Homo sapiens: one gene and its partners. The protein of the gene in region 2 interacts with the protein of the main gene of each other region in a pairwise test. Each region holds a gene or a part of one and is shown on either strand. Other genes may lie near its edges.

Region 1 (7,321 bases), about 28 Mb from region 2:
ATATAGTCTTAAGAACACAGAGACAGACCCTCTTATGGGAATTCTCAATTTGCTTCTAAACCCCCTCTGTAAAGGCATGACCAACATCTATGATTAATTTGTAATTATCTTGTTTTTCCATGATGAACTGTAAGAAGACACCATTTAGGAGTGGATTCCAGCCACAATTTCTTCCTTCTCATACCATGTAAGTCAACTCATGTGGAAGGTGTAACCCAGGCATTTCCTTTGTACGATACCTAAGAAGAACACGCTCCATTTGGAAGTTCTAAGAAAAAACTGCCCTTGCTTCCAATCTGCAGTGGGGAAATTGGCCCTCTTGGTTATTCAAACAGCTTAGCTCAAATGCCCTGGACAAAGTTCAATGTTTCCTCACCAACAGCGAAGGCCTACCAGAGAGAAGCAAATAAAAAATGCCGTTTAGGAAGCTGGCCACCAGCAGACCAAGGACAACAGCATTCCTCCACTGGTATCGAAAATTATTTTTAATCCATACATAGGAAGGGGCTCGATGAGGGCAAGCCACTTAAGTTAATCTTTAGAGAAGGCCATTCTGTTTCGATACACACCCGGGTACAGATTCCCTTGGCAGACACGTGACTTCACCAGAAGCTCGTCCTCTTTAACAACCTTCTGTTGTTGTTTAATCAGTAAATGGGAAAAAAAAAAAAAAAAAAGATTCCAGCCCTTTTTCTAATGCACAAAGAGCAAGTTTTTCAAAGGCCAGCATTTTGGTGAGCTGCTGCAGGAACCCCGGCCTCTTCTGCCAGGGCCCACACAGGCCCTTAAGGAGGTTTAAGGGGACCTTTCTGTAAGCAAAACTGCCCGGATAAACATAATCTTCTGCGAGACTCCACACAATTGTTCAGCAGCTGTAAACCGTTCACCTTGCAACTGATTACTTACTTCAAACAAACATGCTCTCCTGCCCTCCGAAAGCCTGACTACAGTTCCCTTTACTCTCCTTCTTCTATGCATTTGTAATTATGCTAAGTGGGTTTAAAAAAAAATACTGAAGGCCAGTTTGGCAGAAAAAGAAAAGCTTAGCTCACAGAAAACTCAAAGCTCTTTTTCTCTGGCTAGAGGCGGGAGAGAGAGGCTCATTTTAAAACATCCACTCCAGGCACGCTTCTCAAAGGGTGGCGCTGGGACCCCTGGGATTCCTTCAGTGGGTGCAGAGTGGAAGTCAAAAGTCATTTCACAATAAGGCACCCAAGCGCTTCGCCTGGCTGACTCCCAGTCTCCCAGAGGCGTGCAGTAGTGTCTTCCAGAGGCCTCCTGACATGCCATGAAACTGTCTACAGAGGCAGAAATAACAGCTCTCTTCTTAGGCTGGACATTTAAGACATTCAGGGCAACGTACACCCCCACCCCCACCACACTGACCCTCTGAACGCTCTGTTTTGGAAAACTGTTATTTTTGAAACAAAGTATCATTTAACCTAACATGGAATTAACATTCCCTTTATTCCAGTTCACAAATAATTGTTTACAGGTTTCTAGGTTTAAATTGAGAATATGGGCTGGGCACAGTGGCGCTCTGTCTGTAATCCCAGCAGTTTGGGAGGCCCAGACTGGAGGATTGCTGCAGGCCAGGGGTTCAAGACCAGCCTGGGCAACATGGTGAGATGCCATCTCTACAAAAAATTTAAAACATTAGCCAGGCGTGGTGGCTCACGCCTGTAAACCCAGCACTTTGGGGGACCCAGGTAGGAGGATTGCTTCGGCCCATGAGTTTCAGACCAGCCTGGGCAACGTAGCAAGACCCTATTGCTACACAAAAAAATTAAAACATTAGACAGGTGTGGTGGCTCACACCTGTAATCCCAACAGTTTGGGAGGCAAAGGAAGGAAGATCGCTTGAGCCCAGGAGTTCGAGACCAGCCTGAGCAACATAGCAAGACCCCGTCTACAAAACTTTAAAACATTAGTCGGATGCAGTAGCTGGTGCCTGTAATGCCAGCACTTTGGGAGGCTGAGGCAGGAGGACTGCTTGAGCCCAGGAGTTCGAGAGTAGCCTCGGCAACAGAGCAAGACTTCATCTCTACTTCCTATTACAAAAAATAATAATAATAATAAATTCTGAACCTGCAAATCTAGGAACAGAAGTTATCTGCATACACAAAACACAGTGGCGGTCATCACTGATGAGTTCAGACAGTGAACGAGTCCTGCAAAGTTGGAGATCTGTGACTCAGAGATGTTTACAAAGGCCAAGGAAACAAAGTTGCCACTTAACGGGCCTGCCCTCCCCACCAGACCTCCGTGGCTCCCCAGTGCCCGAGAAGCCGCCTCTGGGCCCCCTCTGGAGACGTCCTCCGGAGAAGGGCCCATCCTCACTTACCCTGGGGTGGGTAGGGGTCGAGGTCCCTGGGACGCCCGCTCCTCCCCTCCGGGGCCTGGCGGGGGCGCGCGGTCACTGGCCGACCGCAGGCGGCAGGCAGAGCCGCCTGATGTCTTGGGCGCGGGGCGTGCGAGCCCCCGGGTCCCCGGCCATGGCCCGGAGGTGTCAGGGTGCGCGGGGGGGCGGCTGCACGGGGGCTGCTTGGTTGGAGCCCGACCCGGGACAGGCGGGGAGGCCACACGCGCGGGGAGGGAAGGGTCGGGCCGGGTCGGGCCGGGCCAGGCGCGCAGAAGAGCCGGCGGGGACGGAAAGCGCGGGGCGGGGAGGTCCCAGCGCGCACGCCGCCCCCCCCCCACCCCCGGCCACACCTCGACCCCCGCCCAGCCCCACTTCCGGGAGCGCCACCGCCTCGCCAAGGTCACGCGGAGCCCCCGCGCCCCCGCCCCCGAGCCAGCCCGCGCCCACCCGGGTCCCCGGAGCCCTGACCCCTGCCCCGCCCCGCTGACCTGGCTCCAGGAAGCCCCCGCGGCAGCGCCGCAGCAGCTGCGCCAGGATCACCGCGGCGCCTACCGCGTAGACCCGCAGGGCCGCCCGCGCCGCAGACAATGGCGACATGGCTGCCCCGGCCGCGCCGCCGCCGCTTCCGCGCCGCCCGCGGGACTCTGCGCCCGCCCGCCCGGACGGACGGCGGAAACGCGCGCGCCCCGGACCGCCCCCTGCCCGCCCCGAACCGCCCCGGCCTGCGGGGAACCCCCAACCCCAGACCCCGCCCGGGCCCTCTGGGATCCCGCACCGCCTGCAGGACTGGGGACCCCGAGCGGACAACCGACCCCAGCCAGGACACCCCCCCCAGGACCACAGACTCCAGCCAGGAACCCCCCCCTGCAAGGACCATAGACTTCAGCCAGGACCCCCCCCCCCAGGACCACAGACCCCAGCCAGGACGCCCCCAGGACCACTGACCCCAGTCAGGACCCCCCCTTCAGGACCACAGACCCCAGCAGGGACCCCCCACACACACCCCCAGCCAGGACCACAGACCCCAGCCAGGAATCCCCCCCAGGACCACAGACCCCAGCAGGGACCCTCCACACCTCCTCCAGGACCACAGACCCCAGCAGGGACCCTTCCCCCTCCCGGCAGGACTGCAGACCCCAGCAGGGATCCCCACCACCACAAGACCAACAGCCCCAGCCAGGACGCCCCCAGGACTACAGACCCCAGCCAGCACCCAAGTCAGATCCATAGACTCCTCCCAAGAACACCCCCCAGGACCCCAGACCCCTGCTGGGACCCCCAAGACCACAGGCCCCCCCACTGGGGCACGCCCAGACACCCCACCAAGAACCCCACCAGGACTACAGACCTCCACCAGGACTCCCCAGTACCACAGATCCTCCCAGGGCCCCCCAGGACCACAGACCTCCACTGGGACCCCCACCACCAGGACCCCTCTCCAGGATCACAGACCCCTACTGGGGCCCCCTTCTAGGACCTCCACCTCCATCACAACCACCCCCCGGACCACAGGCCCCAGCCAGCACCCCACAAGACCACAGACCCCTGCCAGGACGCCCCCCAGGACTACAGACCCCAGCTGGACTGCCTCTCCAAGACCCCACACTCCAGCCAAGACCATGGAACCCCATTCAAGCCCCAGCCAGGACCCCCACCATGGGATCACAGATCCCCTACCCAGACCCTGCAGGGGACCAGGACCACCACGGGAACCACCCTCCCCATCTTAGCCAGAATCATGTAACCCCACGCAGACCTCAGCAGGGACCACAAGGACTTGGACCCCATAGGGAACCCCAGACAACCACCCAGAGCCATGCCAGGATTATGGACCAGGACTCCCACAGAGGACTCTGAACAGCTGTAAGGACCATGGACCCCACACCCTAATTCGTACTGACACCACAGAACCTGCCCCAAGCACGGACCCCACACCCCAGTTCCTGCTGACACCACAGAACCTGCCCCAAGCACGGACCCCACACCCCAGTTCCTACTGAGACCACAGACCCCACCCCAATTCCTGCCAGGCCACAGACACCACCCACCAAACCTACCCCTCCACTTCCCTGCCCCCAACAACCCTGCAGGGATCACAGACCCCCTTCCCGGCCCCTGCAGAGAACTCCAGACTACTTCAGGGACCACGAGCCCCCTCCCCACCCTGATCCCTACTGGGACAGCAGACCCCTACTCAGACCTTGGTTGGGAACCCCAGACAACCACAGAGTTACCTGGGCTCCCTCAGGGAACCCCAGACCAGCACAGAACCCCCACCCAGACCCTTACCAGGGCCAAGGCTGAAATCCCACATGGACCCCCCAGCAGACTCCTACTGGAATTCTTCATGGAACCCCCCACCCAGACACTCAGACCTTCACCCCACCACAACCCTCCCAGTCCCACACCTGGTCCCCCAGGGGACCCCAGACCTGGCATCCGGGACTCCACACAGATCCTAACACCCGCTGTGTTTGGGAGACAGGAGCCTGGGAGAGCTGGGGTGACACCATTTTAATCATCAACTCCATCTTAAAAACCAGGAAGACACATTCCTTGCCGGTCACGGCCCATGGTCATAAGATGTTTACGGCTGAAGAAATGACTTAATAATGCCTCCAAGGACAAACACAGACGACAGCGGAATGTCTGGATGTCGCCATATCGCGTAACCACATATGCTGTTAAAGATAATTACAGTCATGCATGGACGTGCTTGGGCGCGAAAATGCAAAGGATGGCTCTCTCTAAATCAACTAAGGAATAAATGTCACGCCGTCAGACATAACCTAGCTTTTACATAGATAAGACAGACCCCTATAGAAGGAAGCTTTAAAACAAACACAAGGTGTTACACCTCTATGACAAAACAGTTTCTTTTTTTTTCTTTCTTTCTTTTTCTTTTTTTTTTTTTTTGAGACAGAGTCTGGCTCTGTGGCCTAGGCTGGAGTGCAGTGGCGCAACCTCAGCTCACTGCAACCTCCACCTCCCAGATTCAAGAGAGTCTCCTCTCTCAGCCTCCCTGGTAGCTGGGATTACAGGCATGCACCAGCACACCCAAATAATTTTCGTATTTTTAATAGAGATGGGATTTCACCATGTTGGCCTGGCTGGTCTCAAACTCCTGACCTCAGGTAATCTGCCCACCTCGGCCGCCCAAAGTGCTGGGATTACAGGTATGAGCCACCACACCCAGCATGTAATGGAATAGTTTCTAATAAACTAAAACTTCCCTGTACTCTTATGACTTACCTTGAATTACTTCTTGAGCAATATCCAAGAACCCACTCTTGGGGGCTAGATCGGGACCCCTCTCCTGCAACACTGGGACCCTAAATCACCAACCCTATCATCCCCAGGACCCAGACCTCCACCTTCACTCTAGGTCTGCACCCTCATACACGTGCCGATGGGCACCCCCCAGCCCCTGCCGAGGTCCAGGAGTGAGAATCTCCACCAGCAAGTCACCTGACCCTAGCCAGGAACTCTATCCCTGCTGGGAGCCAGAACCCCACACTCCACATCTCACTGGGACCCTGGCACCTTGCAGGGCCACAACCTATCTGGAACTTTGGCCCCCATTGGGATGCATCCCCACTCCCATAGGAATTGAACCCTCCAGGCCTCACTCCCCACAGAACCTCAACAGGCACTAAGGGGCACCCCCAGTGTGCAGGTTGCACCCAGCCACTGGGTGGGCTCTGGTGCAGATCTAAGATGATTGGAATACAGAGACCTACCCGGCGACCTCAGGTGTGGCCAGGTGACCAAGCTGGGTTAAGAAGGGTCTTTGTGGCCTTTGCAACCCTCTGTCCTACAGATGAGGAAACTGAGGCCAGGAAGACCAAGGGATGGGGCTGTCCCATTTGGCCAAGTGTGCCAGGTATCTTCACATGTGCCCAAGTATGCTCAGGTGTCGCCAGGTATGCTCAGGTGTGATTCAGTAACCAGGTTGGATTAAGAAGGCTCCTTGTGGGCCAGGTGCAGCGCCTCACGCGCACAATCCCAGCACTTTGGGAGGCTGAGAAGGGTGGATTGCTTGAGCCCAGGCGTTCGAGACCTGCCTGGGCAACATAACAAAACCTGTCTTTATTATTTTTATATAAAAAAATTAAATTAAAAAAGAGGGCTTCTCCAGGCACAGTGACTCACGCCTGTAATCCCAGCACTTTGGGGGGCCAAGGCGGGCAGATCACCTGAGGTCGGGAGTTCGAGACCAGCCTGGCCAACATGGAGAAACTCTGTCTCTACTAAAAATACAAAATTAGCTGGAAATAATGGCGCATGCCTGTAATCCCAGCTACTCAGGAGGCTGAGGCAGGAGAATTGCTTGAACCCAGGAGGCGGAGGTTGCAGTGAGCCGAGATTGCTCCATTGCACTCTAGCCTGGGCAACAAGAGGGAAACTCCATCTCAAAAAAAAAAAAAGGTTATTCCAGCCTTTGCAACCTTCTGTCCTACAGATGAGAAAACTGAAGCTTTCTCGTTTGGCCATGTGTCCAGATATCCTGAGGCGTGCCCAGGTATCCTCAGGTGTGACCAGGTATGCCTAGGTGTGGCCAGGGCACCCAGCCAGAAGCATTGGGAAAATCCACAGTCACCCCTGTCCCCACCTTAAAGTTTTCCCAGGAGAGCTGCCGTTGCATGGGGTGTGAAACCGTGACCCCACTGCCAAATTCAGAAGGACCAAGGATTCCACCAGGAGCAGCAGGGGAGTGGGCTTATTGTAGCCCGACATGCTCCTCCCTTTGGGGACTTCTGGTAGTTATCTAAAAGGATGTTTGTGAGCAAAAGGATAGTGACGTCTAGAGCCATGAATTGGGGGGCTAAAAGCAGAATGCATCACCTGGTGCTTCCAGCAATGGTTTGGGAGACACCCCTACCTTCCCCACAACCCACTTATCTTCTCAGAGGCTCATTTCATCATCTGTCATATATTGACTTTGATTTCCATGTGAAT
Region 2 (6,840 bases):
TGATGGCTGGGTAAACCAAGAAATGTGGGCAGAAGAATAGATGGTTAGTATACCTGGAGATGGGAGAATGAGATCTGTGAGCACCTTCAGCTGGAAGACCCCATCTTAGCTTTACTGAAGGAAGCCTGCCTTTGCAAGTTTCCCTGAAGGCACTGTTCTAGAAAGCCACAAGGCTCCTGTCGTCCTGGTTATCCTTTCCCCTGAGACACCAGAGAAGAACCACAGAACCCCTACAGTGAGTTTCAGACTGCATTCTGTCAGCCCTTCCTTGGGCTTACTATGGTGACAGGAGGTACTGGCAGTGCGGCCTCCTGTCTTCTGGTGTTTGGGGTTTTATCAGTTAACTTTTAGGATTATCATATGAAGTCTTGGCAGGGCCTGAGCCACTCCCTTCCGCTACTGTGAATTTGACACCTCAAAGCACCCTGGGACTCATGAGAAGAAATTGAAGGGGTGCCTCAACCACCACCCTGAGAAGTGACACCCAGTGCTGAGAGTTCAGTGGGGTCTTTGATGTCTTGGAATCATTAGAGTCTTCAGCTCTCATTCAAGGTCCCCACCTTGGCTTCATGTAGGGCTTGGCACCAGCCCCCTTCTGCTGAGTGGTGGCTACACCGTCAGACTAAGAATCTCACCTCTCTTAGATCTTATATAAAAAAGAGAGGGGGACACTAAACCTGATAACCCTTTCCTGAGCTTTCTAGGGCTGAAAATAAAGGGTTGGACTGGATTCTTTGATGTCTCCACTGTTAAGGGTTCAGTGGTTCCTTGAATTCTCAGATTCCTCAATTTGACTCCTGGTAGAGGAGCTCTCCTTTTTATTGAACTGAGGCCTATGTCGTCATGGTAAGAGTGAACATCCCTGAGAACCCATAGGAGGAAGTGAGGGTGGCCTTATCTGACCAAATGTGGTCTTCCCAAAAGTAAAAGCTGTGGCAGGCAGATAACTGCCCTGTGATAGATGGTCCCACATACAGTCCCAACTCAGCCTCTAAATTTGACTCATGAGAGGGTCTAAGATTCTTCCCTGATATGGTTTGGATCTGTATCCTCACCAAATCTCATGTCTAACTGTAATCCTCAATGTTGGAGGTGGAGCCTGGTGGGAGATGACTGGATCATGAGGGCAGGTTTTTCATGAATGGTTTAGCACCATTCCCCTTAACGATGACTTCTCATGAGATCTGGTCATTTAAAAGTGTGTAGCGCCTCCCCTGGCCTCTTGATCCTGCTCTGGCCATGTAACATGTCTGCTTCCCCTTCCCCTTCTGCCATGATTGTAAATTTCCTGAGCCCTGCTCCCAGAAGCTGAGCAAATGCCAGCATCATGCTTCCTGTACAGCCTGCAGAACTGTGAGCCAATTAAACCTCTTTTCTTTGTAAATTACCCAGTCTTGGGTATTTATAGTAATGCCAGAATGGACCAATTAGTACATTACTTCTGTTGACAAGTGATCACCACCCTCAGATTAAAACTCTCATTTCCCTGTTACCCTTGAGTGGGAACTGATGGGCACCTCTGTTTCACATTTCTGCCTGGGGTCTCTCAGAGCTGACAGTACTGAGGATTGTGTGGCTCCCACTAATATGGGGTGGGAGCCCCCTGCAGTCGTCAGAGTTCTTATCATAACATCTGGCACAACCTGGAAACCCTCCCTCTGCTGACCTCAAGCTGCCTTTTTTTTTTTTTTTTTTAAGAGACGGAGTCTCGCCCTTTCGCCTAGGCCGGACTGCAGTGGCTCTATCTCGGCTCACTGCAAACTCCGCCTCCCAGGTTCACACCATTCTCCTGCCTCAGCCTCCCGAGTAGCTGGGATTACAGGCGCCCGCCACCGCTCCCCGCTAATTTTTTTTTTGGTATTTTTAGTAGAGACAGGGTTTCACCGTGTTAGCCAGGATGGTCTCGATCTCCTGACCTCGTGATCCGCCTGTCTCGGCCTCCCAAAGTGCTGGGATTACAGGCGTGAGCCACCGCGCCCGGCCAGGCTGCCCTCTTTAATGGGGTCGTTCACTTCTCTGAGATGTCTTGGGGAGAGTGAGTACAACTCAACATGCCATGCTCAGGTCTCCCTGGTCTGACAACAAGAGTGGGCTCTATATGGCACTTCTTTCTGGTTGGAGTCCCCTCCTCATCACTCAGTGTCACATCCTTGCTTCCTGTTAGAGACTGGGCCTCTCTGTCGCATTAGACCTACCCCATTACACCAAGACCCTCACCTCCCTGAGACCACCTCCAGAGGAAACTAGAGAGCATCTCAGCTTGCTAGCTTTGCCCTGACCTTCCTATTGCTGGCAGCAGATGTGGGTCTTGGATGTAGCCCTCAACTTCTTTAGTCCCGGGAGAGGAAGTCAGGTTGCTCTGCATTTGTCATGTCAGCCTGGGACCATCTAAAACCCAGTGTCACCTCGGCCTGGGAACTGCCCAGCATGACTCCTCTTTTGGGTAGAGGTCCGCTCATTAATACTCAGAGTCCTCACCTTAACCCCAGTTAGGTTTTAGGTTGATGCCATATGAGCAGAAGCAGGGCTGCTTCCTAGGTTCAAGGCCCTCCCCTCCCTGAGACTTTCCAGGCACAGCTTTGCTGGGGCCTCCCAGAGCCGTCTTCAGGGACGAGACTTAGTGAGGCCACCTTTGTTAAGGGTAGGAGATGTTCTCTTCAGTCCACATTTAGGGCCCTCAAATTGATTTCAGTTAGGGCCTACACCCACCCTACGTGCAGAATGAGGCCTATTCCCTGCGTCCAAACCTCCTTCCCCCGCGACTGCCCCTCCCCCCACCCTTCCCCTGCCCTGGAACTTTCCAGGTGGAACATTGCCGGACGGCTTTACCGGAGCCTCTCAGGACCAAATGCAGAAGCGGGACTTAGTGGGGCCCTCTTTGTTACAGGTGGGGGTGGTCTCTTCAGTTTACACTCAGGGTCCTCACCTTGACTGCCGACCAGTCCTGAGAATTCACCCCTGGCTGACCAGACGCCGCACCCCCTACACTCGCTCGGGTCCTCGCCTCCAAAGCGGAAGTCAGGATGAGCCACATCCGCTCGGGTCTTTTTTTTCAAAGCGGAAGTCAGGATGACTCACATCCGGCAGCCCGTGGCGTCTGAGGGCTGACGGCTGGACGCTACCGGACGTCACTGTTCTAGCGTTGCTGGTCCCTTCGTCTCCACTAGGGGTCCTCACCTCAGTATCTAGCAGCCTGGGACGAATATGCGTGCTGACCCAAATCCGCCAGCCTCCAAACAATACCCCCACCTCCCTCAGCCCCCACTGTGGAAATCTAAGCGTGCCAAACAGGCCACCCCTGCCTGGGCCTCACAGGCCTGACAGCAGCGGCAGGGCTCTGTGAATGTGCCTTTTTTGGGGAGAGGTCTTCTCATCCGCCCTCAGAGTCCTCACCTTGATTCCCGTGAAAGCCAAGACTCTCTCTCTGCACAACTGGGGTCACCCTCTTCAGACAAAGGCCCTTCCTTCCCCGAGACTATACAGGTGGAATGAAGGGGATTCAGAGATACTTATTTTGGGGCCTCTCGGTGCTAACAATGGCGAGGGGCTCTGTTTGGCCCCCTCTGCTGGTGTTGCAAGGGGGAGAGCCCCCTCGTAACACTTAGGATCCTCACCTTGATTCCTGTTAGGGCGTGGGTTTTGTCTCTTTGACCTAGGGCCATTTCCACTAGTCCAAGGTCTTCACCTCTGTGAAACACACGAGGCATATTGATGGGATTTCTCCACCTCATAATTCTCTTCTGGGCTCCCCAAGGGTGACAGCATTGGTGGAATTTGTGGGCTCCTCTGTTCTGGGGTGGGTGGTTTTGAAACTGCCCCTATGAACTGTATAAAATTAATCAGGGAAGAGGGAAGGGAGATAAATGAAGATACGCCAAGCTTGCAGAACATTCAGCATTAATCATGAAGTCAGCTGCTCTCTGACCTGCTTCCTCATAGTAGTTTGGTGCCTATTATCCCAGAATCATGTAGATCCTGTTACTAGATTATAGTTGCCCTTAATTGCTCTATAGATAACAATTTTAACATAATGAAACTTTTTTTCTTTGAGATATTCCTTAAGGTCCTGCATACTGATGATTCTAATGACTCAGCTGGTCTGAAGGACCCCACTGATGCCAGCTGCTCTAAAGGACCCTACTGACATCAGCTGGTCCAAAAGACCCCACAGGAGCTGACTAAAAAAAAAAAAACGCAGTTTCCACATTCTGATGATTTCATCCCCTTTACCCCAACGAATCAACAACCTCAGTTCTCCAGCCCCTCGCCCTCCATGATCTCCTTGCAAATCCCAGCCCAGAACTCCTTGGGGAGATGAATTTGAGAGTCTCTTCTCATCTCCTCACTTGGCACCCTGCAATCATTAAACTCTTTGCTGCAAACTTTGCTGTTTTATTATAGTGGGTCTGTTACTTTGCAGCTGACACAGAAACTCGTTGGTCCTATAACAGTTCTCTTATTTCTCTTCAGGGTCCTCACCATGACACCTGGCCAGTCTTGGGGCACTCCATCCTCCACTGACCTGAGGCTGTTCCCATCAGATCAAGGTACTCACCCTCTGCCGACCTCTGAACTGGAAGTTGTGGTGAGCTACATTTAGCCAGGGCTGTTCTGGACTTTGAAGGGCTGACAGCCTGAGCTGGACTTTTTGGGACCCCACAGTTCTGGCTGGGTCCTTCCATCATCTTCATTCAGGGTCCTCACGTTCATATCTATCAGAGGCTGAACTGCATCTACTGACATGAAGTTGACCTTCTTAGGCCATGTCCATGAGAGGTCTGAAGATTAAATGAGTGGATGCTCAGCCTGACAGTTCTGTCTCGAGCTCTCTAGGTCTGAGAGCAGATGAGAGTCAGTCTATGCATAACCTCATATATTCTGAGATATTGGTTTCCCATGTCCTCTGAACTGGGGATCATCTTTCATTAAAGGCTTTCTGGGAAATGTCACATCCCTGCAAACATGACCAGTTTTTCTACTGCAAACCTTGCAGAGAAGGAGCCGTGTTCCGGGAGTGATGTGAGATAGGGAAGCTGAAGCACAAGGCAGAAGCTCCAGGACAGGTAGTGGGCTGTCAGAGAAAAAAACATGCTGATTTTTTCCATCTTGCTAGACTTAGATTCTCACGAAAATTCTGTTCTGACACATTTATTTTCTACAGGGAAGAGACTGTCCAGGATGATTTTGGGAGCTTCTGATCTTTTGAGATTACCTGATATTGCTTGTGTAGATGAACGTATTGACACCAGGTACTATTTTTCTTTTTTTTATTTATGCCTCTCATTTATTTTGGCATTCATATTGGTCTGGGAATATATTTGACCCAGTAGTATGGGCACAGAGTCCTTCTTTTTATTGCCTGAGATACATTTTTCAAAAATAGAGAGAAAAAATGAATGAAGCAACATGAGGTTAGCCTCAGAATGGGAAGACTGGAACAGTGTGGGATGTAGATTAATCCAGACTGGGGGTCTGGTTTCAGCCCTGCCACTTACCAGCTATGTGAACTCAGGCACATTACTAAACTCTGTGAGCCTCAGGCTCTGCATCTGTGAAATAGGTTTGATAAGCCCCTTCCTTGTGGAATTGGTGAAATGTGGTTAATGTATGTAAAGCACCTGGCACAATACTTGGCCCATATTGAGGTTTCAACATGGCAGCTATTACCTATGATTAACTTGATGATACCACCCATCCCACTGTGATTGCTTTTTCTTAATCCAACAGATGTCAGAGAATATGCAGCATTCTAGAAGAAAGAAAACCCAATAAGCCAAAATGCAGATTAGCACGAAAAATCAAGTAATATTTCCCCATTAAATGATAAATTATTCAATGTGAGGTAGACTTCTCCAGTTAGGTGCAACACAACGCATTTGCGTCAAGGACTAACAACTTCCTTCCCTCCCAGTGTCACTTCCATCTAAATCACCTTTATTTTCATTAATTTAACAAGCACCAAACACCTAGAACTTGCCTAGAGCTTGCCAAATTATGTACATGATAGCCTAATTTGAATGCTCCTTTTAATGAAATTGACTCTTAACTCTTCCAGCCCAGTGCAGAGTACCCAGCGGCTTCTTATCATTTCTTCTTAAGGGAGTATCATCCTTATTTCTCCGAAGCTCACTGGATACAATGTATATAAAGCAGCTAGTTTCTGCACTGTGTTCATCTGCACTGGGACAAGAGCATAGTCACTTTCCAGTGCTGCCCCTGGTGGAGCTTCTTTCCAGTTTTCTCCAAAGTTAAGAGCACTTTTCCATTATAGGCTTAGTCTCTCAACTCTGAAGCTTACCATCTGAGGGTCTTGCCCTGCTCACCACTCCCACAGCCTCCTCCAGTCCAGCATGCAGCCTCACTTAAAATTACCTCCCAGTGAGGGACCTGCAGTTTCCCAAGGCCCTAGCTTTCTTTTTCTCAGAGCATTTACACTACACACTCTCATCTGGAACCCTTCCCACTTTCTTACCTGCCTCCATCTTTTTTAACCTTGTCCTTTGGATCTGAGAGATACTTTCACCATGTATTTGTATGATAGCTGCTCCTAACGACTAAAATTCTTTGGACAATGGGTAAAACTTTCTTTTTTTATTTCTTCTCATCTCCTTCATCTCCAGTACTAACATTGAGCCTTCCAAAGAGCAGAGAATTGATTAATATTTAGGGAATAAAAGAGCCAATGAACAAGAGTACTAAATGAGTACAATTTAATTTATCTTACATTTTTGAAAAAGCCAAACAAATCCAGCTATATATCTTTTAATTTTTTAAAAAGAAAGGCTAAAAGGAATAAGGCAAATCAAGAATTGAACACATCTCACCTTTTTTTTTTTATTT
Region 3 (7,024 bases), on a different chromosome or scaffold from region 2:
TGGGTGGATCGCTTGAGCTCACGAGTTTGAGACCAGCCTGGGCAACATGGTGGAACCCCATTTCTACAAGAAATACAAAAATTAGCCGGGCGTGGTGGTGTACGACTGTAGTCCCAGCTACTTGGGAGGCTGAGGTGAAAGGATGGCTTCAGCCTGGGAGGTGGAATTTGCCGTGAGCCAAGATAGTGCTACTGCGCTCCAGCCTGGGCAACAGAGCCAGACCTTGTCTCAAAAAAAATATGAAGAGGTCTGAGGGGCTTGTTTGCCCCTTATATTATGTGAGGACACAGCAAGGTGTCATCTTTGAAGCAGAGAGCAAACCCTCACCAGACCTAGATCTGGTGGCACCTTGATCTTGGACTTCCCAGCCTCTAGAACTGTGAGCAATAAATTTTTGTTGTTCATCAATGACCCAAGCTAAGAGATTTTGTTAGAGCAGCCTGAACGGACTGAAGCAGAGGTCACTCAAGCTGTGCTAGCAGTAAGGACCATGGGAACCTACCAGGGGACTCAGCCAGAGAATCAGAACTCAATTCACGGCCAGGCACAGTGCCTCATGCCTGTAATCCCAGCACTTTGGGAGGCCGAGGCAGGAGGATTGCTTGAGCCCAGGAGTTCAAGGCCAGCCTGGGCAATATAGTGAGACCCTGTCTCTGAAAAAAAAAAACAGTTTTTTTAATTAGCCAGGCATAGTGGTGTGTGACTGGAGTCCCAGCTACTCAGGAGGCTGAGGTGGAAAGATCGCTTGAGCCTGGGAGGCAGAGGCTGCAGTGAGCCGAGATAGTGCCACCACACTCCAGCCTGGGCAACAGAGCAAGACCCTGTCTCAAAAAAGAACTTGATTCACCACAATCACTAGAGTGAGAGAAGGGGAGCCCAGGGGAGGAATGGCGGGAGCCTGGCCTGGGGTGGCAGCTGACGCTGTAGACAAGGGCGGATACCTGGTAGATGGTGACCCTGGCACTAAGGTCAGGCTCCATGTGCCGCAGGCCAAACATGGCCAGCTCCACAGGGTCCTGGGGCAGGTCCCGGGGCACTGGGAAGGGGTTGACGTTCATGAATCGAGGGAACCACAGCTTCAGGCGCACCAACTTGAGCATGGGGTAGCTTTTGCGTCCAAAGATCTGAATCAGCAGGAACTCCGTCTCCTTGTTGGGCATCACACCTGTGCTGGGCAGATGCAGGCAGAACCTCAGAGATGGAGGGGGAGGAGGGAAGGGAAGAGGAGAAAAGAAAACAGTGAAGTGAGGGAATTGATCACAGACAGGGAGAAAAGAATCAGAGAGAATTAGAAAGAAAAAGGCTCATGCCTGTAATCCCAGCACATTGGGAGGCCAAGGGGAGAGGATCACTTGAGTCCAGGAGTTTGAGAGCAGCCTGGGCAACATAGTGAGACCCCATTTCTAAAAGAAAGAGAGAAAGAGAGGAAGGAAGGGAGGGAGAGAGAGGCAGGGAGGAGAGGAGAAGAGAGGAGAGTGGGGGGAGGAGAGGGAGGGAGGGGGGAGGGGAGGGGAGGTCAGAGGGAGGCAAGAAAGAGAGATGAGTGATGAAAAGAGGGATTCGGAGAGGGAGAAGAGCGAGAGAGACAGAGACGGAGCCATGGAGGAAGGAGGGGCTGAGACTCAGGAGAGGTGCTGCCAGCTATCAGTGTAGCCCACTCCCCACCCTGCGCCAGCCTCCTGGCCTCACCGTGGTTCTCCATCTGCTCCAGGACAGCAATCCCACACTCCTGCTGCCGAGGGTAGTGGACGAAGATGCGCTGGATGATGTTGCGAGGCCGGAAGACCTCCTTGGGGAAGATGTTGAGCAGCTGGTTGTACACAGCCAGGTCCCGCTCGACACCATACTCCCGCATCTTGCGCAGGGCCAGGTAGATGAAGTCAATGTGGCCCCGCTTACGCACGCTGTGCTCCGCAAATTTCTGCACCGTCTGCAGGAAGCTCGCCTTGTCCCGTTCCCCACCAGGCGCCTGCCCAAACAGGTCCTCAAAGGGCACCAGAGCCTTGGTGGGCCTCTGCCGGGGTTCCGGTGGGCTGGGAACCAGGGACTGTTCAGAGCTATGGGCAGCTGCGCTGCAGTGGAGGCCCCGAGGGAGCCGGCGAGGGACCTGGGGAGGGAGGAGAACTGCTGGAATCTGGCACCTCTCAGTGTCTATGGGGGGCCGCCAGGCTGGCTCTTTCCTCAGAGAGGTCCCAGTGGCCTCCCTGAGGACTCGGAGGTATGGAACTGTGGTTACAAACCCAAGATTCGAGGCCATTACAAAGTGCGATAAAACACAATGCTGGCACAGTAGGGAGGAAACAGGCACTGTTAGCCATGGCTACGGGGAGCTGGTAAAAACTGCCACGGAGGCAACTTGGTAATATTCACAGTGATGACACACACATGCCGGTTTTTTTTTGGGTTTTTTTTTTTGGTTTTTTTTTGAGACGGGGTCTGGCTCTGTGGCCTAGGCTGGAATGTAGTGGTGCTACTGTGGCTTACTGCAGCTTTCAACTCCTGGGCTCAAGCAATTCTCCTCCTCACCCTGTCCAGCAGCTGGAACTACCGGTGTACACCACCACACCTGGCTAATTTTTAAATTTTCAGCAGAGACGGGAGTCGCACTATTTTGCCCAGGTTGGTCTTGAACGCCTGGCTTCAAGTGATCATCCCGTCTCCACCTCCCAAAGTGTTGGGATTACAGACATGAGCCACTGTGCCTGGTGGCCCTTTTTGCTTGTAATTTTTTTTTTTTTTTTTTAGACAGAGTCTCATTCTGTCACCCATGCTGCAGCGCAGTGGCGTGACCTCAGCCCACTGCAACCTCTGCCTCCCATGTTCAAGCGATTCTCATGCCTCAGCCTCCCAAGTAAGCTGGACTACAGACGTGCTCCACCACGCCCTGCTAATTTTTGTATTTTTAGTAAAGATGGGGTTTCATCATGTTGGCCAGGCTGGTCTCAAACTCCAGGCCTCAAGTGATCCACCTGCCTCAGCCTCCCCAAGTCTTTTTTTTTTTTTTTTTGAGACAGAGTCTCGCTTTGTCACCCAGGCTGGAGTGCAGTGGCGCGATCTCGGCTCATTGCAAGCTCCACCTCCCGGGTTCACGCCATTCTCCTGCCTCAGCCTCCTGAGTAGCTGGGACTACAGGCGCCTGCCACCACGCCCAGCTAATTTTTTGGATTTTTAGTAGAGACGGGGTTTCACTGTGTTAGTCAGGATGGTCTCGATCTCCTGACCTCGTGATCCGCCCGCCTTGGCCTCCCAAGTGCTGGGATTACAGGCATGAGCCACCGCGCCCGGCGTAGCCACCTTAAGTCTTGAGATTACAGGCATGAGCCACTGTACCCAGCCCCTTCTTTCTTTTTCTTTTTTTCTTGAGACAGAGTTTCACTCGTCGCCCAGGCTGGAATGCAATGGTGTCATCTCAGCTCACTGCAACCTCTGCCTTGTGGGTTCAAGCGATTCTCCTGCCTCAGCCTCCCAAGTAGCTAGGATTACAGGCGCCTGCCACCATGCCCAGCTAATTTTTATGTTTTGTTTGTTTGTTTTTCCTGAGATGGAGTCTCGCTCTGTTGCCAGGCTGGAGTGCAGTCACACGATCTCAGCTCACTATAACCTCTGACTCCCTGGTTCAAGCAATTCTTCTGCCTCAGCCTCCCAAGTAGCTGGGATTACAGGCACATGCCACCATGCCCAGTTAACTTTTGTATTTTTAGTAGAGACAGGGTTTCACCATGTTGGCCAGGCTGGTCTTGAACTCCTGACCTTGTGATCCGCCCACCTCGGCCTCCCAAAGTGCTGGGATTACAGATGTGAGCCACCATGCCCGGCCTAATTTTTGTGTTTTTAGTAGAGACGGGGTTTCACCATGTTGGCCAGGATGGTCTCGAATTCCTGACCTAAGGTGATCCACCCACCGTGGCCTCCCAAAGTGCTGGGACCCTTTAAGAGATGGAGTCTAGCTATGTTGCCCAGGCGGGAGTGCAGTGGCTATTCACAGGCATGAGCCAACTGGTCAGCACAGGAGTTTTGACCTGCTGTTTCCAACCTGGGTCAGTTCACACTTCCTTAGGCAACCTGGTGGTCCCCCAAGTCCCAGGAGGTCACAATATTAAGCAAAACTTAGTGCAGGACACTCCATCAGCATAGTGCACAACAGCCCAGAACTCCTGGGCTCAAGTGATCCTCCCACCTCAGCCTCCAGAGTAGCCAAATTCTGGTTCTAGATGACACAGTAACAAATTTCTTATTTTAAATTGAATTTTTAAATTAGAAGGGTTACATATAAGGCATCTTAAAAATATACAGCTAGTTATCAAGGTTGTACTGTGCTTTGATTGCACCACCGCATTGCAGCCTGGGCAACATAGTGAGACTCCATCTCTCTATGAAAAAATAAAAAAATAAGCGGGGCGTGGTGGTGTATACCTGTAGTCCCAGCTACTCAGGAGGCTGAAGCAGGAGGACTGCTTAAGCCCAGGAATCCCAGGCTGCAGTGAGCTATGATTGTGTCACTGCACTCCAACCTGAACGAGAGAGTAAAACCTTATCTCTAAAAAATAAATGAATGTGTGTGTGTTTATCTACACACACACACACACACACACAAAACGCTAACAAGTAAGAGCCAATATTAGTCCAGGCTCGGTGGCTCACACCTGTAATCCTAGCACTTTGGGAGGCTGAGGCGGGCAGATCACCTGAGGTCAGGAGTTTGAGACCAGCCTGGGCAACCTGCTGAAACCTCATGTCTACAAAAAAATACAAAAATTAGCCAGGCATGGTGGTGAATGTATGTAGTCCCAGCTACTCAGGAGGCTGAAGTAGGCAGATCAATTGAGACTGGCGGGTCGAGGTTGCAGTGAGCCAAGATCACGCCACTACACTCCAGCATGGGCAACAGAGCGAGACCCTATCTCAAAAGAAAGAGACAATATTTACCAAATATTCTTCCACTGTAGACACAGTTGAGCACTTTACAAATGTGAGGCCCTAGGTGGGGGGTACTCTTACTGCACTCATTTTACAGATGAGAAAAACCAAGGCTCAGGAAGATGAAGTGGGATGCACAGTGTTACACAGCTGCAAAGCATCAGAGCTGAGAATGGAGTCAGTGCCCTCAGTCCCCCTACTCTGCGGTCCCCACAGCCATCCCATATCGTTCTTTGATAAGGCAATGTTAAAAAAAAAAAAAGGCATTCATTTACAGTAAAATTTCAGGTTGGGCGCAGTGGCTCGTGCCTGTAATCCCAGCACTTTTGAGAGGCGGGTGGATCACTTGAGGTCAGGAGTTTGAGACCAGCCTGGCCAACATGGTGAAACCCCATCTCTACCAAAAATGCAAAAATTAGCCAGGTGTGGTGCCGCACACCTGTAATCCCAGCTACTCAGGAGGCTGAGGCAGGAAAATCACTTGAACCCGGGAGGCAGAGGTTGCAATGAGCTGAGATCACGCCACTGCACTCCAGCCTGGGTGACAGAGGGAGACTCCATCTCAAAAACAAAAAACAACTGAAATTTCAGTCAATTAATAATATAGGTGGTGTAGTATTGTACCACTTTGGGGTAAAAATCAGAAAGGAAGCTCTAAAATGCCTAACGAGGGGGAAACACTGCAAAGGAGGTAATGTAAATGAAATGCATAGTGCGGGGCCGGGCACAGAGTAAGTGCTCAATATGGGAACTATTAATATTCCCACCATCATCGTTATTGCTATCTATGGCTGTCAATCTGCTTTCGCCATCTGGTCACTATGGGTATAGGAAAGAAATTCAGTTTTCTGCCCCATCTTCACAAGTAGATGCAGGAGGAGCTGCTCACAGTCACCACACAAATCCACCGAGCTCATACATCCTTATTTTCAAAGTCAATCCCCTCACCCACGTAGGCACTAGCATCTCTTAAATTAGGGTCCAGGCACAGTGGCTCACACTTGTAATCCTAGCACTTTGGGAGGCCAAAGTGGAAGGACTGAGGGCCCAGAGGTTCAAGACCAGTCTGGGCAACACAACAAGACCATATACTTAAAAAAAAAAAAAATTAGCGGCCGGGTGCGGTGGCTTATGCCTGTAATCCCAGCACTCTGGGAGGCCGAGGCGGGTGAATCACCTGAGGTCAGGAGTTTGAGACCAGCCTCGCCAACATGGCAAAACCGCGTCTCTACTAAAATTACAAAAATTAGCTGGGCGTGGTGATGTGCACTTGTAATCACAGCTACTCGGCAGGCTGAGGCAGGAGAATCACTTGAACCCAGGAGGCAGAGGTTGCAGTGAGCCAAGACCACGCCACTGCACTCCAGCTTTGGCGACAAGAGCAAAATTCCATCTAAAAAAAAAAAAATTAGCTGGGCATGGTGGCTCAAATCAGTGATCCCAGCTACTCAGGGGGCTGAGGTGGGAGGCTCATTTGAGCCCAGGAGTTTGAGGCTGCAGTGAGCCCTGATTCCACCACTGTACTCCAGCCTGGGTGATAGAGCAAGACCTTGTTTCAAAAAAATAAATAAATTATGGACTTTTGGCCAGGCGCGGTGGCTCACGCCTGTAATCCCAGCACTTTGGGAGGCTGACGCAGGTGGATCACTTGAGCCCAGAGTTCAAGACCAGCCTGCCCAACATGGTGAAACCCCGTCTCTACAAAAAAAATACAAAAACTAGCCGGGTGTGGTAGTATGTGCCTGTAGTCCTGGGTACTTGGGAGGATGAGGCGGGAGGATTGCTTGAACCTGGGAGGTCAAGACTACAGTGAGCTGTAATCACACTACTGCACTCCAGCCTTGGTGACAGAGACACTGTCTCAAAAAACAAACACATAAACATACATACATACATAAACTAAGGACTTTTAATGGGACCTCGGCACTGATAGGCCAGCCCAGACTCACCAGAACTGGCTTCACAGAGTGGATTCTGAAGGAGTTGGGAGCAAATCCCAAGCTTACCTCCCTCTACCCAAAAGACTGCCTGGCTGGTGCTTACCTGAGAGATGGAGGTTCCTGTGAGGGCGGCCCCGCAGGTGCCTCCCCAGGCCCTACAGAGGCCT
Region 4 (7,024 bases), on a different chromosome or scaffold from region 2:
TGGGGTTGCGAGACCCCTAGCACACAGTTGGCCTTCTCCCCTGTAAGATTCAATATGAATGTACACGTTTTACATCTGATTTCCGGAGGGCACGGACCCCTCAAAAATCCATTTGTGGACCTGTGAGGACACCACTGACCTTCAGCTCAGCCTCTGACCACAGCCGGGCGGGGGCCTGCAACAAGGCTGCTCTGTGTCGACAGCGCCACCTGGTGGCCACTATGAACCATCGGCCTGACTCCACTTTAAGAAAAACTATTCATTTACCGCCGGGTGTGGTGGCTAATGCCTGTAATCCCAGCACTTTGGGAGGCCAAGACCAGCAGATCACGAAGTCAGGAGTTCGAGACCAGCCTGACCAACATGGTGAAACCCCGTATCATCTAAAAATACAAAAATTAGCCGGGCCTGGTGGCATGCACCTGTAATCCCAGCTACTCAGGAGGCGGAGGTTGCAGGAGCTGAGATCATGCCATTGCACTCCAGCCTGGGCAACAGAGTGAGACTCTGTCTCAAAAAAAAAAAAAAAAAAAAAAAAAAAGAAAAACTATTCATTTACTTATGTTCTTTTGTAGAGATGGGGTCTTCTGTGTTGCCCAGGCTGGCCTCAAGCAAACCTCTCTCCTTAGCCTCCCAAAGTGTTGGGATTACAGGCGTGGGCCACTGCCCCTGGCACTGACTCCACTTTTTTAATTAAATTTTTTAATTCTTTTTTTTTTCTTCCTCTGAGACGAAGTCTTGCTCCATTGCACAGGCTGGAGTGCGGTGGCGCGATCTCGGCTCACTGCAACCTTCGCCTCCCGGGTTCAAGCAATTCTCCTGCCTCAGCCTCCTAAGCAGCTGGGATTATAGGCACACACCAGCACACCTCGCTAATTCTTGTATTTTTAGGGAAGATGGGGTTTCACCATGTTGATCAGGCTGGTCTTGAACTCCTGACCTTGTGACCCACCCACATCAGCCTCCCAAACTGCTGGGATTACAGGTGTGACCTACTGTGCCCGGCAACTTTTTAATTCATTTTATTTAAAAAAATATGTATATATAGGGTGGGCGCGGTGGTTCATGCCTGTAATCCCAGCACTTTGGGAGGCCGAGGCAGGCGGATCACCTGAGGTCAAGAGTCCAAGACCAGCCTGGCCAACATGGTGAAACCTCATCTCTACTAAAAATACAAAAAAAAATTAGCTGGGTGTGGTGACACACGCCTGTAGTCCCAGCTACTTGGGGAGGCTGAGGCAGGAGAATCGCTCGAACCCAGGAGGCACAGGTTGCAGTGAGTCAAGATCGTGCCACTGCACTCCAGCCTGGGTGACAGAGGGAAGACTCCCTCTCAAAAGAAAAAAAAAACAACTATATATATATATATCTATGTAGATATAGATATAAAAGTATATATGTATTTATAGATACATATAAATCTATATCTAATCTATATATATCTATGTATAGCTACAGCTATATCTATCGATATATCTATATATAGATATATAGAGAGAGAGAAGGACGGGATCTCACTCTTTCACCCAGGCTGGAGTGCAATGGTGTGATCTTGACTCACTGCAACCTCCACCTCCTGGGCTCAAGTGATCCTCCCTACTCAGCCTCCCGAGTAGCTGGGACTATGGGCGCCTGCCACCACGCCCTGCTGATTTTTATATTTTTAGGAGAGATGGGGTCTCACTATGTTGCCCAGACTGGTCTTGAACTCCTGGGCTCAAGTGATCCTCCCGTGTTAACCTCCCGAAGTGCTGGAACTATAGCCATGAGCCACTGCACCCAGCCTAGATTCAATTTTTTGGATACCTCATTTACCCTGATGTGATTATTAGGCATTGGATGCCAGTATAAAACATCTCATAAAACCCATAAATATATATACCTACTATGTACCCACAAAAATTACAAATTACAAATTAAAAAAAATAAAAAATACATTCATTAAATTTTTTTTCAAGAGACAGGGTCTCGGTCTGTGGCCCAGGCTGGAGTGCAGTGGCGTCATCACAGCTTGCTGCAGCCTGAAAGTCTCTAACCCCTGGGCTTATACATTCTTTGCTCCTCAGCCTCCGAAAATGCTGGGATTGGCTGGGTGCGGTGGCTCACGCCTGTAATCCCAGCACTTTGGGACGCCGAGGCAGGAAGATTGCGTGAGCCCAGAGTTCAAGACCGGTCTGAGCAACAAAGCAATTTAAAATTTAAAGAGCAACAAAAAATTTAAAAATTAACCAGGTGTGCTGGTGCATGTCTGTGCAAGACTCCGTCTCATTAAAACAAAAAACTAGGAATGTGAACCATCCAACGTCACACTGAATATGTATCTGTGGACGACCCCCTCTGGGCTGAGCGTGGTACCGGGTGAACGATGGTATCCTCTCCATCAGTCTTGACTGTTTGTCCTGCAAAGCCCCTGGCCGTGCCCTGCTCGCCCGCACACCTAGGTTCAAGCAGGTGGGACCAGGCGCAACTCAGGGTCCTGAGTTCACGGCGGCGGGAGAGGCGAGGTCCAGGCAGGGCGTGGCCTCAGGGGTCCTACCTGTGTACATGATGCCGTTGATCTCCACCGACATGCTGATGCTGTTGCTGCCGTTGGTGCCCGTCAGGTTCACAGCAGAGTCCTGGCGGCTTTCGGAGGCTGTGGGAAGAAGAACAAATTAGTTTCTTTTTTTCTTTTTTTTTTTGAGACAGAGTCTTGCTCTGTTGCCCAGGCTGGAGTGCAGTGGCGCGATCTCAGCTCACTGCAAGCTCTGCCTCCTGGGTTCACGCCATTCTCCTGCCTCAGCCTCCCAGTAGCTGGGACTACAGGCGCCCGCCACCACGCCTGGCTAATTTTTTGTATTTTTAGTAGAGATGGGGTTTCACCATGTTGGCCAGGATGGTCTCGATCTCTTGACCTCGTGATCCACCCGCCTCGGCCTCCCAAAGTGCTGGGATTATAGGCATGAGCCACTGTGCCCAGCCGAACAAATGAGTTTCTTTCTTTTTTTTTTTTTTTGAGACGGAGTCTCACTCTGTCACCCAGGCTGGAGTGCAGTGGTGCGATCTCGGCTCACTGCAACCTCCACCTCCAGGGTTCAAGCAATTCTCCTGCCTCAGCCTCCTGAGTAGCTGGGACTATGGGTACACACCAGCACACCCGGCTAATTTTTGTATTTTTAGTAGAGACGGGGTTTCACCATGTTGGCCAGGCTGGTCTTGAAGTCCTGGCCTCAGGTGATCTGCCCGCCTCGGCCTCCCAAAGTGCTGGGATTACAGGCGTGGGCCACCGCGCCCGACCAAAACTGCCATTTCTGATCATAAAGACACCTGTGACATGTTCTGTTTTCTGTCTGTCTCGCCAACTAGATTTTAGCTTTACAAGGTGTAGACGGTGTCTGTCACATTCATGCTGTCACCAGTGCACACAGTAGGTGCTCAATATTTATTTGTTGAATAAGTGTATTTGTCCATACTCCACTTTGTTTTTTTTTACCTTGTTTTTGAGACCAGGTCTTGCTCTGTCACCCAGGCTGGAATGCAGTGGTGCAATCATGGCTCACTGCAGCCTCGACTTCCTGGGCTCAAGTGATCCTCCCATCTCAGCCTCCCGAGTAGCTGGGGCTACAGGAGCGTGTCACCACGCCCAGCTAACTTTTGTAGAGATGGCATCTCACTGTGTTGCTCAGGCTGATCTCAAATTCCTGGGCTCAAGCAATCCTCCCATTTCAGCCTCCCAAAGTGCTGGGATTATAGGCATGAGCCACGGTGCCCAGCCAGTTTACTTTATTATTTTTTATTTTTTGAGATGGAGTTTTGCTATTGTTGCCCAGGCTGGAGTGCAGTGGCGTTATCTCGGGTCACTGCAACCTCCATCTCCCAGTTCATGTGATTCTCCTGCCTCAGCCTCCCAAGTAGCTGGGACTACAGGGGTGCGCTGCCACGCCCGGCTAATTTGTTGTATTTTTAGTAGAGATGGAGTTTCACCATGTTGCCCAGGCTGATCTCGAACTCCTGACCTCAAGTGATCCACCCACCTCGGTCTCCCAAAGTGCTGGGATTACAGATGTCAGCCACTGCACCCGGCTTTTTTTTTCTTATTGATTTGTTGGCACTCTTTACATATGTAGGCTCCAAGGCCCTCACTGTGTGACACACGCAGGAAGCACAGCGGGTCTGGGCACGAGGGCAGTACCTTGGCTGTTGATCCGAATGCTCATGGGCAGCTGGGCCGCCATGGCCAGGAAGTTCTGCTGGAGTGCACGTTGCATCAGCCGTTGCTGCTCATCGGCCACCAGGGCCATCTTCTTCTCCGGAGGCTCTGCAGACTCCAGCTTCTCCCGCAGCTGTTCCAGGGCAGCTGCCTGTGCGGCCACAGCTGCTTGGGCGGCTGCTGCTTGCACAGCTGCTGCCTGGGCTGCCACCACAGGGTGGCCCGCCAGGGACACAGGCAGGCGGCCAGGGACTGTGATGGGGATGGCTGAGTCCTCCTCTAGGTAGGAAAAAAGGGGAATTGGTGGCCAGGAGGGGCTGGGCCCTGCCTTCCACTCAAGGCAGGAACATGCACCTTCTTTTTTCTTTTCTTTTCTTTTTTTTTTTTTTTTTGAGACGGAGTTTCACTCTTGTTGCCCAGGCTGGAGTGCAATGGTGCGATCTCAGCTCACCGCAACCTCTGCCTCCCGGGTTCAAGTGATTCTCCTGCCTTAGCCTCCCTAGTAGCTGGGAAACAGGCACCCGCCACCACGCCTGGCTAATTTTGTATTTTTAGTAGAGACGGGGTTTCTTCATGTTGGCCAGGCTGGTCTTGAACTCCTGACCTCAGGTGATCCGCCCGCCTCGGCCTCCCAAAGTGCTGGGATTACAGGCGTGAGCCACCGCGCCCAGCCTTTTTTTTTTTTGCTTTGAGACAGAGTCTCGCTCTGTTGCTTAGGCTGGAGGGCAGTGGCGCGATCCCAGCTCACTGCAACCTCTGCCTCTCAGGCTCAGGTGATTCTTCTGCCTCAGTCTCCTGAGTAGCTGGGATTACAGGCGCCCACCACCACACTAAGCTAATTTTTTTTTTTTTTTTTTTTGACACGGAGTCTCACTCTGTCGCTGAGGCTGGAATGCAGTGACGTGATCTTGGCTCACCGCAACCTCTGCCACCTGGGTTCAAGCGATTCTCCTGCCTCAGCCTCCCAAGTAGCTGGGACTACAGGTGTGTGCCACCACACCCGGCTAATTTTTGTATTTTTAGTAGAGACAGGGTTTCACCATATTGATTAGGCTGGTCTCAAACTTCTGACCTCAAGCGATCCGCCTGCCTCAGCCTCCCAAAGTGCTGGGACTACAGGCGTGAGCCACTGTGCCTGGCCTAAAAAAATTTTTTTTAGACTGGGTCTCACTACTGTTGCTCAGGCTGTAGTGCAGTGGTGTAATCTCAGTTCACCACAGCCTCGACCTCCTGGGCTCAACCCATCTGACCACCTCAGCTTCCTGGGTAGCTGGGACCACAGGTGCACGTTGCCACGCCCAGCTAATTTTTTTTTTTTTTTTTGAGATGGGGTCTCACTATGTTGCCCAGATGAGAAATGGTAACTCAGACAGGCAAACTGAGGTGACACTGCTGTGTGTGCTGTTGGTACCTCTGTGTTATGGAGGATTCAGAGGCTCAGTGGGAGGGAAAACTGATCAACTGATGATGCCTGCCTCAGTGTAGACTGGAAAAACAGTGATCAATTAGTAATGTCTGCCTTGGCCACAGGACTGGAAACACAGATTGATTAGCAATGTCTGCCTGCCACCTGTGTGGAATTAGAAAATGGTGATGGATTGGTAATGTCTGCCATAGGCAGAGGACTGGTAGATTGGAAGCCCTTTTCCATGCCAACTATAGGGTTTTTCATCCTGGTTACCCAGAGAGGGGAAGAGGTATCCCCCAAGGTCAGACAGCCAGGCTGAAGCTCAGTTGGGAACACGCCCCAGGCCCCATACAGGCCCTTACCTTTCTTGATCTTAGGGGCGGGGGTGATGGAGCTGCCATTGGTGCTTGCGGCCAGGCCCAGGGAGGACACGGGTAGCTTGGGTGAGGAGAGCATGCCGTGTGCCCCGCCTGGCGAGTAGGCAAAGAGGGAGCCACCAAAGCTCTGGCGCCGGCCCTCCCGTCGGTTGCTGTCTATGGCTGCCTGGAGCTCATTGGGGTTACTGAGGCCCCGCTTCTCACACTCGTAGGGGTACAGGTACTTCATGTATCTGTGGGTGGGACGAGGGAAGAGGATGGCACCCGGGTCACCCCTACGGCTCTCTTTGGCCTTCAGTACAAAGTAAACCCCACTGTGGCACCACCATCCCTGGTTCTTCCCTTGGACTTGCTCAGCAGCCCCCAGAGCTGCTGGGCCTTTGCCCATTCCCTCCATCTCAATGCTGTTCCTCGCAATGGCCCCTGATTGCACAACCCCAGAGACTGTGTGGTCCTCGCACCCCTACTTGACGCTCTCGGGCCCTGGACGCACGGTGTGGCCCTGTGCCCTTTGCGGCTGCCCACTGCCCCCTCCTCTGCAGCTGCCCACCACCCCCTCCCTCTTCTGCAGGCCCCTTGCACTGGCTGCTCAGAGTGCCCTGGCCCGACCTCGGCACAACCGTCCGCCACTCACTGGGTCCGCAGGGTGAAGGCTGCACTGGTGATGGACGTGGGCAGGTTGAGGCCCTTGGTGATCTCACGCCACAGCTTCTTGTTGATGACCTCCACGAGGCCGCCCTTCTCCGTCACCAGCACGTACAGCATGAACAGGTCAAGGACCTGTTTGGCCATGATGGGGATGCGGTTCACAGGTGTCCCTGGGGGAAGGGGCGAGAGGGAGGTTGGGGGCCACCTGGGCACTGCAGGGAGCCGAGTGTCCTGGCCTCCGCCCTCTCCATGCCAGGAGCACTCCCCCGCCCAGGCTGTGACAACCACAGATGTCTCCAGACATTGCCCAGGGCCCTCTGTGGGTGCAGGATCATCCAGGCTGGGAACCTCTGCTCGAGAGGGTGCAGAGGGGGCAGCTCTGCCTCGGTTTATCCACCAGTA

What was found.
Region 1: the proteins of MAGEB2 (region 2) and ZBED1 interact in binary tests that used the Homo sapiens proteins (3 or more experiments, as listed by UniProt).
Region 3: the proteins of MAGEB2 (region 2) and ECSIT interact in binary tests that used the Homo sapiens proteins (3 or more experiments, as listed by UniProt).
Region 4: the proteins of MAGEB2 (region 2) and ARID3A interact in binary tests that used the Homo sapiens proteins (3 or more experiments, as listed by UniProt).

What each region holds. Positions count from the first base shown.
Region 1 is NC_000023.11:2,497,967-2,505,287, forward strand, and holds the start of ZBED1 (E3 SUMO-protein ligase ZBED1), read right to left. Parts: upstream 3,011-7,321; 5' UTR 2,960-3,010; coding exon of another isoform or gene 2,851-2,959; intron 2,660-2,850; exon of another isoform or gene 2,345-2,659; intron 1-2,344. Other genes in the region: DHRSX (polyprenol dehydrogenase), read right to left, coding at 2,851-2,959.
Region 2 is NC_000023.11:30,211,742-30,218,581, reverse strand, and holds the start of MAGEB2 (melanoma-associated antigen B2), read right to left. Parts: upstream 3,020-6,840; 5' UTR 2,927-3,019; intron 54-2,926; exon of another isoform or gene 7-53; 5' UTR 2-6; coding exon 1-1. UniProt on the Homo sapiens protein: May enhance ubiquitin ligase activity of RING-type zinc finger-containing E3 ubiquitin-protein ligases. Proposed to act through recruitment and/or stabilization of the Ubl-conjugating enzyme (E2) at the E3:substrate complex.
Region 3 is NC_000019.10:11,512,115-11,519,138, forward strand, and holds part of ECSIT (evolutionarily conserved signaling intermediate in Toll pathway, mitochondrial isoform 1 precursor), read right to left. Parts: coding exon 6,961-7,024; intron 2,108-6,960; coding exon 1,690-2,107; intron 1,166-1,689; coding exon 942-1,165; intron 1-941.
Region 4 is NC_000019.10:964,016-971,039, reverse strand, and holds part of ARID3A (AT-rich interactive domain-containing protein 3A), read right to left. Parts: intron 6,793-7,024; coding exon 6,609-6,792; intron 6,208-6,608; coding exon 5,960-6,207; intron 4,469-5,959; coding exon 4,172-4,468; intron 2,636-4,171; coding exon 2,537-2,635; intron 1-2,536. UniProt on the Homo sapiens protein: Transcription factor which may be involved in the control of cell cycle progression by the RB1/E2F1 pathway and in B-cell differentiation.